Linked DNA regions of Homo sapiens: region 1 is linked to region 2. The links come from fine-mapping of genetic effects on gene expression. Tissue or cell type: sun-exposed skin. Region 2 holds a variant in brackets; the other region holds the start of a gene. All regions are shown on one strand. Distances are from middle to middle.

Region 1 (6,241 bases), 850 kb after region 2:
TATCCCCAGCTGTCTCAATGTGTGGGGAGAGGGGTGGCAACGGGGCGGATCGTGCAACCCGGTGCAGCTGAACCTCATGTAGACGAGACTGGAAGTGCAGAAAACTGGCGTTGTGATGGACCTGAGGGATTCCCTAGTCTAGTCTTGTATCCAGTTCTCTGGCCTACCCAACTGACGGTTATTCTTGAATACCTCCAGTGATGGGGGACTCATTACCTCCTTGGTCAGTCTAACTTGACCTTCTGCCTCTCTCAAGGCCCCAAACCCACTGTAGCTCCCAAGGGGTGGGAGGAACCCAGGGTTTCCTAGAGTTATTCTCTATAGGGTGAGGATGGGACTTGGCTAGTCGCCATTCTAGGGTACCTAAGCCTGGATTCAAACCAAATTGAATACCAGTTCATTTCTGGTAATAATCTAACATTCATACTTTATTGTAGTTCTGTTCAAAAGTACTGCTTGGAGCTGTGATTTGGGTATATAAGGCATTTGTAGTCAAAGAAAATAATTCACATATGCATTCATGAATCAGTAAAAATAATTTAGGGTGTCGATTCTAGGTTAGACAATATAATGCTTTCATTCTAGCTTTGGTTCATGGTTCATTTCAAATCCTCAGCAACCAATCTCTGCCACCTCCACGCAGCACATTCTGCTTCTGCAGCCAGCATTCGACCAGTGTACCCATGTCCTTGGGTAACGAATCTGTGGGGGGAGCCATTCTGGTATCACCTGGTCCCCCTCCCACTGCCCCCTCATCCAAGGCCTAGCAGTCAGCTTCCTGGGTGACCACAGGAGGTCAGAGTTTGTCTAAGCGGGTCAGGCCTACAGTATTGTCCACTCAGAGGAAAGAGAAAGAATCCGCGTGGGAAAGACACAAAGAGGAGGAGGAGGAGGCGACAGAGTAAGGGGAGGAGAACAGAAACTAAATATAAATATGTGTTGGGGATGTTGGGGATGGCAGCAGGGTATGGTTAGCTGGCTGGCTCCCACACCACTGTCCCACAGCACAGAGGGCCAGCATCTGCACCTGGCACCATGCTTTCCCTAGGAAAGCCGAGGGCATTGGGCTTGTGGTGCAGCCACACAGGGTACAGACCTGTTTGGGACTGTCAGGTTCCCACGGGTTGCCTGAGCTCTATTAGGTGGGCGCCTTAGAGTAAATTGTGTGAAACCAATACAGCCTATAATGCAAAAGATTGAGCCGTGAGTAGATTGATGCGTCTAAAGAATCAGTGAACAAAAATAAGTGGCCATAGTGACCTCAGTTAATCATTGAAGTCTGAGGTGCCCAACAATGATTTTTAAAATCCCTGCACTGTCCTTGGTCCCCGCTCTGTGACACTGGCAGTCACCCAGCCACCACTTGACGGCAGCCATTTGGAGTCCACATGTACTGAGTTTCCAAGCCAGAACTTCCTCAGCACTCAGCCAGAACACAGCCTTTCTCTGGGGGCCCAAGACAAGGAGAGCAAAGGTCTTCTCACTTCTTTATCTGGGGAAGAGATGAGTGATTCCTGTCCCTTCCCCCAGTATAGAAAACACCCTGTACCCCAAAAGAAACATGGCACAGGGGCAGCCAGGAGTGAGCCCCTTGGAATGGCCATTCTGATCTTAGGCAGGGACTGCTGAGGACAAGCAGAGGATGCCGACTCTGGGACAAAATCACAGGCGGAGGGGCTCCGAAACAGGCCCTAGCCGCTCTGGGGGTGCGGGTCTCCTGCCCTAGGACTCTCAGGCTAGAAAGTCCTCAGGACTCAGGACTGCGCAAGGGCTGACAAGGGAACTGGAATCCCTTAAATCCCGCTTTCCTGCCTGCGCAAGGGGCTACCCCAGCACAGTCTTGGGGCCCTGTCCACATGGGACAGATCATCCAAGGTGACAGGTTTTCCGACTCCCGCGTGGGCTCTCCAGGATGTGTGGGTGGGCACACGCGGCCCGCTCAGGTCCGGGAGAGTCGGCCCGCGGCTCTGGAGCGTGCATCTGCGATGCCAGTGAACGAGGTGATTACACACAGCCGGCGCTCAGCTGATTCTCCAGGTCGGGTCTCCGCGAGGCGGCCACTGGGCCGTGGAGCCGCAGGCAGGTCCCCGCGGCTGTGGCCAGGCCAGGGCCCGGAGGCGAAGGGCGGGCGGGAACTGGGGCCAAGCAGGTGGAGAGAAAGAGTTGAGCAGCACGGCGCCCCTCGGGCAGAGGGGCTCCTGGCCAAGGCCCCAGCGACACTTGGCAACTTCTCCCGCGCTCTGGGTTCGCCGCCGCGTCCTACCTGAGGCCACACCCTGAAATCAAAATCGCGGTCAGGTGAAGCCGGCGCTGCACCAACGTGTAAGCGCGGCCCCTCCTCGGCGTTCCCGCGCCGAGGTCCCTCCCGCGGAGGGCGGGCCCGGCTCCCACGACCTCTTCGAGCGTTCCTGGGCTTCCCGCTCCGCAGGTGGGTTCCCCGGCTGCCCCGGAGGTTCGCGGCGAGAGGACGGGCCTCCCAACACGCGCAGCCCCCTTCCTGGGTGCCCATGCCCCGAAGTTCGGGACCAGCCGGCGCCAGGCGAGGGGCCTTGGGCGCAGGCATCTGGAGCTCCGCGTCCCTGGAGCGGGACCTCCCTCCGCGGGCGCCCGCCCGGCGCGGGGCATTCGCGTCCCCGAGAGGGCGCAGCAGTGGGGCCTGCGAGCTGGGGCCGGGTGGCCGCGCCGGGTCGGAGTGTGGCTGGAGAGGGGCCGCCCCGGAAGCGGTGCTGCGCCCAACGTCCCCTTCTCCCCGTAAGCCCCGCAAGGAGCCTGCCGCCTCTTGCACCTGAGCCAGGAGTTCAGTCGGGAGGCGGGCGCGGAGCGGTTCCCAGCGCCTGGACGTCAGCCAGTCGCAACACCCGCGGGAACACTTGCTACATTTGCCATAATGCATTTCTGATCTGTTTCCGCGCAGGCCTGCGGAGGACTGGCCCAGCAAGGTCCCAGGTCTTCCCTCTCCTCAGCGCCTAAGAGAGAGGCCCAGTGCGGGTGAGGAGTCGCGAGGAAGAGGCGGAAGGCGCCGGAAGGTGAGTGAGCGAGCGGCCCCCGGCCCTAGAGCCTTCTGCACCCATTTTGAAGAGCAGGCAGGGAGGGACAGTGGGCAGGCAGGTGGCCCTCCTGGGCTGGCTCCTTCCTGGTACTGCTAGGCAGCGGAGGTGGTCCCTTCCAGGTGCCGTCTCTCGATCCTTAGTGGGTGCATGTTAAGTCACTTACACCACTTTGCCCCATGGCCCCACGGTAGGCTGGTAGACGTCAAGACCTCAAATGGCCCGCCCTGCCCCCGGGCCCATCTTCAGGTCTGATGCCTGTCCTGGGTGAGGGTGTCACCGCGGCAGAGTGCAGGGAATTCATGCCGGGGAAGAGGTTCCCAAACAGGAAGGGTGGTGGCAGGCCCAGTGGCTGTGCAGGGCAGGGTGGGAGGCAGCCGTGGGAGACTCCCGCAGGAGTTACAGGTGAAGCTGCCGCTCCACACATCCCAGCCCACCGCTCATTCCCCAGATCTCCAGACCTGCTCAGGTGGCATCCGATCTGGAGTGTAGGTGCTGCTGGGAGCACTGGAGGCTAAGCCATGAAGAGCTCCCAGGGTGTAGGTTGCGTTTTCTGTATCTTGCCCCATTCTGGTGGTTTTTTGGGGGCTTTTCTGACTTGTTTTTCTGGGTGAAGGGGGCAGAGGGGCTCAGGTCTGTGTCCATGCTCGTTTTTGGTGGCCGGTGTGGCATAGGTTGCCGCATTGGATAAGAAAACGCCTGGTTCCATGCAAGGTGAGGTTCAGCCTGCAGTGCCATGAATTCTCCTCCATAGTATATAGGACAGTGGCCGAAGACACATTTGGAACCGAAGAGAGTGGGGTTTGAATCTATCCAGACTTTGCCTTTGACTCCTTAGACAAGTTGCTTCACTTCTCTACAAACTTATAAATGGCCTCATCTGTAAAATGGGAATGCGAATGCCTTCCTCCTCATTAGGCGGTTGTGGGGAGTAACTGCCTCATCAGCCTCCAGCTGCTATGTTGGGAAGGGCTAAGCCACTCCAAGTTCTCCCATCCTGGAGAGCTTTGAGGGCAGTCTGGCTGTTTGGCAAGCTATTGTCAGAGGGTATTAGAGCAAAGCAATAGGAATAAAGTAAAGGTAGGGGTCCTTGGAGGGCGAGTAGTGAGAGACCCTAATTCAGGGTCTCTGGACCTCGTGGTGACCCAGGGAAGGGGCCATTCCTGGAAGAGGATCTGGCTTGGGCATCAGAAACAGCAGCGCCCCCTGCACATCACACATGTTCATGTGTTCATGGGTGACCCTGGAACCTCAACTGTTGCCTGGGATAGAGGGAGCCTCTGGCTTGAGCTTCCAGTCCCATCTCTGTTCTGCATAGCTGTGTGATCCAGAGCAGGTCACTTGACTTCTCTGGGCACTGGGCATTGTGGATGAGCCTGGAGTTTGGAGTCGGAGAGATCTGACTTTGAATCCCAGCTCCACACTTACTGTCTTGGACAATTACTTCTCTCTGAGCCTCAGTTTCTTCATCTGTAAAACAGAGCTCGCAGTAGCTACAATTAGCCATTAGATGTACTAATAAAAAGCACCTAGCACAGTCTATCCATGTGGTGGGCACTTTATAAGCATACCTTTCTTTTCTTGCCTCCTCCTTCTCTCTCCAGCTCCCTGCTGTCTTTAAAATGGGCCCAGGAAAGCAGGTTCAGCCCAACTCACAATGGTGTTGTGAGTGTAAAGTTGTGAGTGTTAAGGAGGTGAAATAGAGGTCTGGAAAGTTAAGAGCTGTAGAAAAAAAGGCAATCTTGTGATTAGGGATGCCAGAGGTTCCTTCTGCTTAGCATAGGGTTCCAATGCCAGAGGTTCCAATGCTTAGCATAGGGTCCTAGCTAGGCATTGAGGACCCTATGCTAAGGACTCAGACCTCTGTGTGCAGAGGCTGTTGAGAATCTAGGGTAGGCCGGGCGCGGTGGCTCACGCCTGTTGACACAAGTGACTGAATGAGCTGTATTACTGTATTCTTTTAAACAGCAGCCCATTATCTCTCCCCTGGGGATTCACTGGGGCCAGTGGTATGGGAATAGTGACAAAGGCAGAGAGCCCAAACATTTTGGCAGGTTGCATGTCATGCTGTCTGCCCTGGCCCATGCTGCATCTGTCTGGGTCCCTCAAGTGGGACAGCAGAGCCTCAGGGTCCTGCTCATCCTCCCAGGGCCTCTCCGCACTTCAGCACACTGACCCTGAGCAGGTTGTTTGAATCTTGTGGGCATCCACATGAGGGCCACAACCTGCGTCTAGGACCCTCCTCCCCCGCAGGTGACAGCTGAGCAGAAAAGCAGATGAAATTTCCTTCCCCCGTGTATTTTGGGAGCCAGGATAGGGTGCTGGGGTGCCACCTCTCCTGACTCTCAAGTCACGTGAAGAGGAGCAGATGGCAGACTCGGACCCCAGTAGAGGCTGAGGTGAGACAGAGTTCAGCTCCACACAAGGATCAGCGAGGGGACAGAGGGGACAGAAGGCAGGGGCTGCAGGGGGAGCTTTTCATCGCTGAATGAGTTCTAGCAGAGTGCGGGCAGCCTCCTGTTGGGAATGCCAGAGGGACTGAACTTTGGGCCAAGGGGAAGGTCAGACCCCGTCAGGAGTGCCACAGATCCTGCACTACCATCTCTTCTGGCTGCAGAAGGTTGGCCTAGAGCAACACCTGTTTGGAAGAAGCAAACTAAACCACACAGGAGTGAGGATTTCCTCTCGTTTACCATGGTCCCCAGAGCCTGGAGTAGAGTAGGTCCATAATAGATACTTTCTGAATAAAGGAATACTATAATTTCCCAGCTGGGCACGGTGGTATGCTCCTCTAGTCCTGACCACTCAAGCGACTGAGGTGGGAGGGTGGGTTGAGGCCAGACGTTCGAGGCTGCAGTAAGCTCTGATCGCGCCACTGCATTTCAGCCTGGGCGACTGAGTGAGACTCTGTCTCTAAAAAAAAATTTTTTTTTTGAAACAAACTTCTGAAAGTAAAGTTTGAGAAAAATCCTTCTGGCCAATGAGAATATTCCAGTGAAAGGCTGTCTTCTGTTCGCGGTAATTCTCAGCCAAGGGGTCAGGTGAGGCCTGTCACCTGTCAGAATGTGTGTGGGATGACAGTTCCCAAAGGGGGTTACAAAGAGGTCAAGAAACCCTGCTGCAGGTCTCAGCATGTCAGGGCCCAGCCCTGGAGGTGACAGGGTCCTCTGGAGGCCACTCTGACAGGTTGGTGA
Region 2 (7,939 bases):
AGCTCATGTTAAAAATTATAAAATTACCTGATTGGAATTTAAAAGCTGTATATATTTACAGCCACAATTCTTTGAGTCTAACACCTGTCATTTATTTGTTTTTAACAGCAGCAATGGCCTGGCATATGATAGGTACTCAAGAGATGTTCCTTAAATAAATGAGTGATCTGGCAGAGGAAAAGCTAAGCCATGCCCAGGTGCTTGGAGACCCTCAGCCTCCTCCCTTGAGCTATGTTTGCTGTGAAGATCCAGTAACCTCTAATCGAACAGTTCTACATGAGCACATGCAAGCTGTACCTTGTGCTAGATAGGGAATCATACCCTTCCCAAATTTGCCTGGGAAAAAGCAGAGACTCCAAGCAAGGCGTGAGGTCCCAGGCTGCTGAGCTAAGCCTACTATTCTCATGATCAGGGCAGCTCAGGTTTCTCTGCAGTGGGGAATAGCAAACTCTCTGAAATATCTAATATCAAAACCGTATGCCTTTAAGGTGAATAGTCATGGACACATTCTCCTTTGGGAGAAAAAAGAAAAAAGTTCTACTAAAACTAAAGTCCCAGCTGATTTCCGACACACTCAGCAATGAACAAATTGTTACCAGGCCAGCCTTCCAGGCTAGAGGTTCTGACTTCACTCCCTCAGGACCCTCCTCCCAAGTGGAAACTAACTTATTTTTAAATGTCTGTGTTCCCTGTCAATGCAGGCAGACATTTTAAGGAGACTTTAGACACTATGCATTGTTACATGAATAACCACATCTGCATGCAAAGCAGTAAGAGATACTAACTCCAATAGACCAAATGTGTGCTTTTCCCCATTGCTTTCAACTCCAAGAATCTGAACAAACAGAAAAGGTCATTCTGATCTTTTTTCTTCAAAGATTAACAATAGGAAAACAGGAATAGTATATTTTCTTATGATAAAAGCAGAAGCTTGTTGGCAACTTCTTTTGAATTCTTACTACCAACCACAGTACTGGTGTTAAATTAAAAAATTACTCATGACACTTGTGTCAAAGAACACAATTTCAACAAATTGAGTTTTAAAGATCTAATTGGCTTTTACTAGTGATTCATGAACCAGGCAGCATCCAGTCTACAAAATAGACAGGAGCTCCATTGGAGATGGCAGAACAGTCAGTTTTTGTAAGGTAGCTTGAGCGGGAACAAGGCAACAGCCTAATGCAAAAACTGGATTGGTTAACATCAGGTTACCTCAGGTTACTTTCCTTTATTTTACTACAGGTTACTTTCCTTTACGGGTTAAAGCAGTGGAGACTGCTTTACATGCTGGCTTAGGTGGACTGGGCTTCTTTTGATTGGTTGCTGTGAATCTCTTATTTTTTCAGAAAACTTTCCTGCTTAGGGTTTTGGTTATAATCTCTCCTGATTTCTCCAAAGGTCAGATCTTACAAGTAAACAGCTTAGGTTTCAGTTCGGTGACAGGGAACCTTAGCTTGAGTGACTCCATTTTGGTTGGTCTCTTGGAGCCTGGTACAGGAGCTCAGTCCAATCAATGGCCTACCACACATTTAACACTTGTTAAAGATGGTAATGCAAACTTTATTCAAGGGGCAGGGGACATGGCTACAGGTATAGAAACCACCACAGTGGGGTCTTGCAGTGGGGGAGAGAGGCTGGCTCAACTCTGACTCCAACAAATACATGACAGGTTTTATCACCAAGGAGCAGGTGGGCAGGGGGCAGTGGATAGAAAATTACTAACAGGAAATATCAAGGATAAAGGTTTTCTGGCTAAATCAACTTGATAGGATTATGGCCGAAGGCAGGCCAGGGTGATAAGATATCAAGGAATTCCAAGGGTGGAGAATTTTTTCTAACCTGACTTAGGAGGATTGTTGCTCAAATGGGATTCTATAAGGACACAGGGGGAAGTTCAAGGTCAATCAGAGGACTCAGAGGAGCCTGACTAAAGTTTTGGTCAAGGGAAAGTCTTTGTCACTGGTAATGTAGTAGGTACCCAATAAATAATTGTTGATTCAACAAATCAACATTCTTCCCCAGATCCGCCAGACTAATTACTTCTCACAACAACTTTGTGTGGCAGCACCTATCTATGGCAGTGGTTAAATTCTCCCTCCCTCGGAGCTCATTCTGTATTCTATCAAGTCATTTTCTAACAGAATTCTTTCCATCACTCGTGTACTTTCTTAAGAGTGAGGAAATTAAAACGGGGAGAGAAGGTTCAAGGCCATGAGTCAGTCCAAAGGCAGAGTAGGGAATTCCATTAATAACTTAAAGCACAAATCCACCTTCCTTTGCCATGAGGATGGGTCTGAAAGTGCTGGCTTGTTACTCCAGCTGCAACCCACACATTGCTGTATAGTCATCCCTGTTATCGCAGCTCTTGGGAGTGGGAAACCTACAGAGCAGTGGCGATGACAGTGACTCAGAGAACACATGAGTTCTTGTTGGTTCAAGGACCTCAAGAAATAAAACACTCAAAATCAATGTAATATGTAACACAGTAACCATTTTAACACCCTCCTAATCTCCTAGGGCCAAAGTGGAGAATACCGATATTTGGGATTAGAAAAAGACACTGGATAGCTAATTTTAAGAACAATTCAAGCCCCGTAACTTCACAAGCATTCCTCAATGCTCAGGAAAAGAAAACATGACAAAGAAATATTTTAAGTAGATATTTTCCAGTCCACTAAATTTTCTATTGCAAAATTGAATGTCCTTTTTAAATCTTCCAGTAGCCTTTTAAATATTCGATGACAGGGATGTTGTCTTCAATTTTTTGTTTTTTTGGTATTGCTCCTTGGCAACTAATATAGTTAGTGCCTCCTAAGTTTTTCTGAGTAATTTCTCTAAAAATTAACAGCTATTTTTAAACAGCAATATTCCTCCACTTATGAATTTATTGAATATTTTTTGGCACCTACAGTATGCAAATCACAGAACCAGGCACCATGGCACATGTGTAAGAATAAGACAGCATCTGGTGTGAAAATTAGAAGGGGAGTGCATTCATCATCACCTATCCTAGAAAAGCAGAAACCATTTGTATTTCAAAATAAAAGAAATTTAATATATGGGAATTGATTATACATGTGTTGCAAGAACAAGGAGCCCAGAAATAAACAAGAGCAGGTGCCACTGTCATCCCTAGGCAGGAAAACAGGAGACTGTGCTCCCAGAACCCAAGGGCAGGGACCACCATTAGAGGCTGGAACTGTCAGCTGCAAGGTGGAGTCTCAAAAGAGATACAGCTCCATTGACACAGCTTCCAAAAGCCAGAAGGGAGTGGGAGAAGACCCTGGTTTCTCATGCTAGCACCTGCCATTGTTACCACCCGGTGCGAAACCAGTTGACACAAAAGTCTGGGCAGCTTAGCCCTAAGGTCGGCCCCTGTGATACAGAACAGAGCAGGGAAAGGCCAGGGTTTGAGAGCAAGCAGGCCATACATAGGGAGCTTTGACAACTGTATAACAGCCAAATTCAAATTAGTGCTATCACAGGGAAAGTAAAATAAATATTCAATAAGCTTATAATATTGCCTTAACTGAATTACAAACAACAACAAAAAATAATAATAACCTCATGACATTTGGAAAAAAGATATATCAATTCCACTTAGAATGGCTGATGCTTTATCAAAGAGGCAGCACTCTGGAAATTTGGAGAAAACCAATAGAATTTCAAAAGCTACAGGAGGAATAGGAAGGATTCTACTTGCAAAAGCATCAACACATAGATATTCTGGCATCGTCTGGTGGAACCATATTGAAGATGCACTGAAGTATGATGTTAAGGAATGTAAATTTTTTCTGGTAGATCAGGAGTCACTGAAGATTTAGGACCCAAAATCTTCAGTGACAGAATCACAGCTGTGATTTAAGGATTCATCTGGCAGCAGCATATAAAATCCTTTGGGAATAAAGATGCCAGGTAAAAGGTAATAAAGTCTTGAACCAAGGGGGCATCCACGGAACTACATGGAACGTTCTTGATTTAGTGTTATCCAGTTGGAAGCACTGTGCAAAGAACTAGAAATGGGAGCCCTCCCATGATAGCTTGGAAAAGATGTCTCTGTTGTCTGCATACTTTGGGGCACATATGAAAAGTGATGAGGGTTTAAAGCCTGGCCATGGATAACATTATGCAGAGGGAAAGTCAGAAAAGAAATGTGTTTCATCAAAGGCTTGAGCATAGAAGGAAAGGTGCTTAAGAAGAGAATAGGGGCAGTAGCGGAAGGGGGAAGACCCAGGAGAATATCGCATTTCAGTAGAAAGGGTTTCCAAAAAAAGTGAACAAGCAATTATGTAAAATGCAGCAGAAAAGTCAAGGAGAATGAATATTGAAAAGGGGTGGGAGGACTTTTAACTTTATAGAAAATTTCAGGAAGCATCCAGAACTGAATTTGAAATCAAAACGTCTGGGCTCAAGATACATAAAATAATTTCTCCCTATGTATTACCTCTACTCCCTCATAATTTCACTATACATG[T/C]AGTTCTTTGTGTCCTCTTTGACTATTCTCTTCAGCATAATCTTCCAGTTTCTACATCCACTGCTAATGCTTCCATATTCTTGATATTTAAAAAGCAAGTGCATTGTCATGTCATGATGCCCACAGAAGCCAGAGAGAGTAGGGTCACACCATATATAACTGGGTTACCTAAAGACTTGTCCATTAGCATATATTTAGAAGGGGCTATGGGCATCACAAGCAAAGACTGACTTGTCAAGTTAAAGCTAACATATAACTTCTATAGTTAAATAGCAAAATTTAGCAAGCATTTGGTAATAGGCTCGATTAGCATGGTTTCCATTTTTTTCTAGCAATTGTATACAAAGCACTGAAAAAGAGAAAATGCAAAGAAGAATGTATAGAATAGCACATTTATAGACTAGTGTGTTGGCCTCTTCAGAAATCCAGCATTGTAGAGAAGATATCATCCACAGTACTAAGTTTAAACCACTTAAGCTGAAATTCAAAACCCTACACAATTTGATAACAGCCTACTTCTCTAACATTATCTCTCTCTAGCCATTCAGTCAATAACTCAAATTCCTATAATTCAACAAACAAGCACTTACTCCATTCCAGGCATTGTGCCAATCACTACACTAAGCACCCACAAGCCAGGCTGCTCCCATCTAAAACGTTACTACCCCTACTCCTTTACTGACCAGTCTGTTCTCAGCAGGAAAGCCTTTGCTCTTCTCTGTGCATATTGAAATTCCTCGATTATTGACAGCATACTTGGGAGACAGGAGCAAGGCTGTGCAACCTGACTGCTTTGGATTTAAATCTAGTTCCACCCTTAGGCAGCTGTGTGACCTTGGGCAAGTTACTTAAATGCTTCAATTTCCTCCTCTGTCTTCCTTCGAGGAATGTGATGATTAAACACATATATGAAGCACTTAGAAGAGTGTGTCAAGGTATTTAAAACCATACCAGGAATTTAGCAACTGTTTAATAAATGTTAAAAAGTAGTAGTAGTAGTTGTTGTTGTTGTTGTATTGTGATTCTCAGCTGCAGATGCACCTCCTTCACAATACCCCACACTCATAAATCTAACTCATGGTCCATACTCACATGGTTCTTATCATATGTGTCTTTGCATATGTTTTATATCTGATACATTTTTTTGGAGGCAGGCTATTATGCATTTTTTTTCTTCCCTCAGCACACAGCCACATGCACCACAGTCCCTAATGGTAATAGTAAACTGTGTGAGTGTGTGTGTGTGCGTGTGCATGTGTACATGAATTCAGTGGACCCTAAGGAAAATTCTATGGAAGAGGGACAGTCATGGTTCTTCCATCACCAAGAAACATCAAAGTTTGGGGTCACCAAAATGAAGGAAAGTAGCTATAGCATCTTCTTTGCAATAGGCCTTTAATACTGTGTCTATCCTTCTTACCAGTCTGGATTAGTTTAGATTCATTTCTACTAGAGGGCAGGGAATGAACTAAGTAATTTGTAATTCCACCAGTTCACCCCTTCAGAACACCTCCAGATCATCACAACTCCCAATTTTGCTTTGTTAAATGCAGACCAGCTGGGAACCAGCCCAGGACCCTGTATCCCTGAAGTTAACCCACACTCATATTGCTTGGACCAGCTGGGGCTGGCCTGTTTCTGGTGAGACAAAGAGCCAATAGATGATGGTCTGACATGCCAAGAAGTGATCATAGCTGCTTCAGAGGTCATCAGTAAAGAATGTCAGAAGGAAATGGCCCAAGGCAGTAGAAATGCTTTTGCCCTCTTAGATGGTAGTTTCGCAAGCCAATAGACAAATGACGAGCTGGAGCTGGAAATAGCACAGGACTAGTATTAGTGATAGTACTGGGAAACGGCTTTAGCCTGAGGCTGGACCACATATCTTCCACCCCTTGCTGAGAGGAACCACTGCCTAAAACAGATAAGTTTCCCAACATGACTAACTTGAGTGACTATCTTTTTGCCGCTTTTCCCCTCACGCTGACCAGAAATGAGGCATCAATGAAAGTACACACTTAAGAAAAACCTGCTGTTCTGAGCTGCATCCTCCCTGGGACAAATTCTCTGGGGCAGAAGTAGACACTACCCTCAGTTGAGTGGGCTCACCATTTTCTTCAGCCCCTTCTCAAGCCAGAACCAAGGGAATAGAACCAGCATTCTGTTCACTCCTGAAATCTATGTTAACTCCAGCGCTGGATTATCAATACAAATTAAAGTACAGAATTTGAGGAATTACACATTTTGCTTTAATAAATTGAACTGTGGTGAGATTAGCCCTGCAACATCATTGCATTCACTCATTTTCCTGTCTATATGTCACTGTTTCCCAAGTTTTATTCTACAGAATAGTGCCACGAATTATTAATAGGGAATCCCTGAAAAAAAATAAAAGGTTCCAGGTAAAACAAGTTTGGGAAACATGGTCATATGCTTCCTTGAATGGGAGAGAAAGGAAGAGAATGGCAGCTGCAGTCGAGTCATTGCAGGAGCCCTGGGTTCACCATAGGGTGGGCACCACACACAGGCTAAGACCATCAATGAAATGTGTCGGGAGCCTTGAGGAAGGATGCTTCTTTTTGTGACTTTGGGAGGCCTACAGGAACAACCCCAGCATTCCATATTAAAATGCATGTCCAATGTCATATAAAACCAGTCTAAAAACTCCCACTACATTCTTAAAACTCTTATTTTCTAGAAAATTCCAGAAATATGGATCTCTATTAAAGACAATCTTGAAAGAAGGTTAAAAGTTGCCTGCAAGAGTCCTACAAAGAGCAGGAGCGTACACACTGTGGATGATTCCAGACCACCACCTACCTTCCTGTGGTTCTAACGTATTAGCTCTATAAGCAAGAAGTCAGTCATTAAATCCACAGATTGAGAATGTCCCTTTATTGATTCCAGAAGGGAACCTGAAACACAGGTTAAGTAATAACCTGAAGCATAAAGAATTTATTATCCAGAGCAAGTGCTGACTCTTCTGGATCATATTGGAACGTACTCCCTTCCTGCTCCCTCTTTAATTATCATTTTTAACAAAAATCCAGTAGTTGGCCAAAATTCTCTGCCCAGGCAGGCCCAGAAATGCACTGAGGGGTAGAGGGAGAAGACGACTTTCACCCAAAGGGAACAATGCTCCATCACTCTGCTTCTTCATCACACAGGAATATGATCTAATTTAACATCACAGCTAAAATTCACCTTGATATTTATGTCCCTATCTGGTATCTGTGAGGCTAGGGGAAGGGCAGAGACTTTTAGGCCACAGACAGGAGACTGTTGAGGGGGTTGTAGCCGTAATGTCTGCAGACCTGCATTAATTCACTTTGTTAATTTAACCAGGTAATTGGGCTGTGAGTCCTAAGAGCCAAGTTAGAATTCTGGCTCTGCTACTCATCAGCTGTAACAAAGGGCGATTTCCTTCCCATCTCAGTGCTTCCATTTTCTAATACGTAAAATGAGGTG

Which allele goes with the higher level. Positions count from the first base shown, and alleles are read on the strand shown. Sizes are in standard deviations (SD) of each study's normalised expression.
For the expression in sun-exposed skin of the gene that starts at base 2,696 in region 1, T is the high allele of the variant in region 2 and C is the other (large effect, 0.84 SD a copy in GTEx).

What was found. PIP is the estimated chance that this variant, and not a neighbour inherited with it, causes the effect.
Region 1: it holds the start of PAK6-AS1, and the variant in region 2 is fine-mapped to the expression of PAK6-AS1 in sun-exposed skin (GTEx, PIP above 0.99).

Annotation. Positions count from the first base shown.
Region 1 is chr15:40,250,264-40,256,504 of GRCh38, forward strand. It overlaps PAK6-AS1 (PAK6 antisense RNA 1), which reads right to left and starts at 2,696. Exons shown (of 2, transcript NR_168270.1): 1 at 2,395-2,696; 2 at 401-2,276. It overlaps BUB1B-PAK6 (BUB1B-PAK6 readthrough), which reads left to right. Exons shown (of 10, transcript NM_001128629.3): 2 at 2,915-3,026. It overlaps PAK6 (p21 (RAC1) activated kinase 6), which reads left to right. Exons shown (of 11, transcript NM_001395430.1): 3 at 2,915-3,026. RefSeq lists a silencer at 2,678-2,767 and an enhancer at 6,233-6,241.
Region 2 is chr15:39,398,717-39,406,655 of GRCh38, forward strand. The region is part of intron 1 of LOC105370777 (a long non-coding RNA gene); the gene reads right to left. Among named protein-coding and RNA genes, the nearest start is that of LINC02915, 150 kb to the left of the region's middle. The variant T/C (reference allele first, on the strand shown) is at 4,475.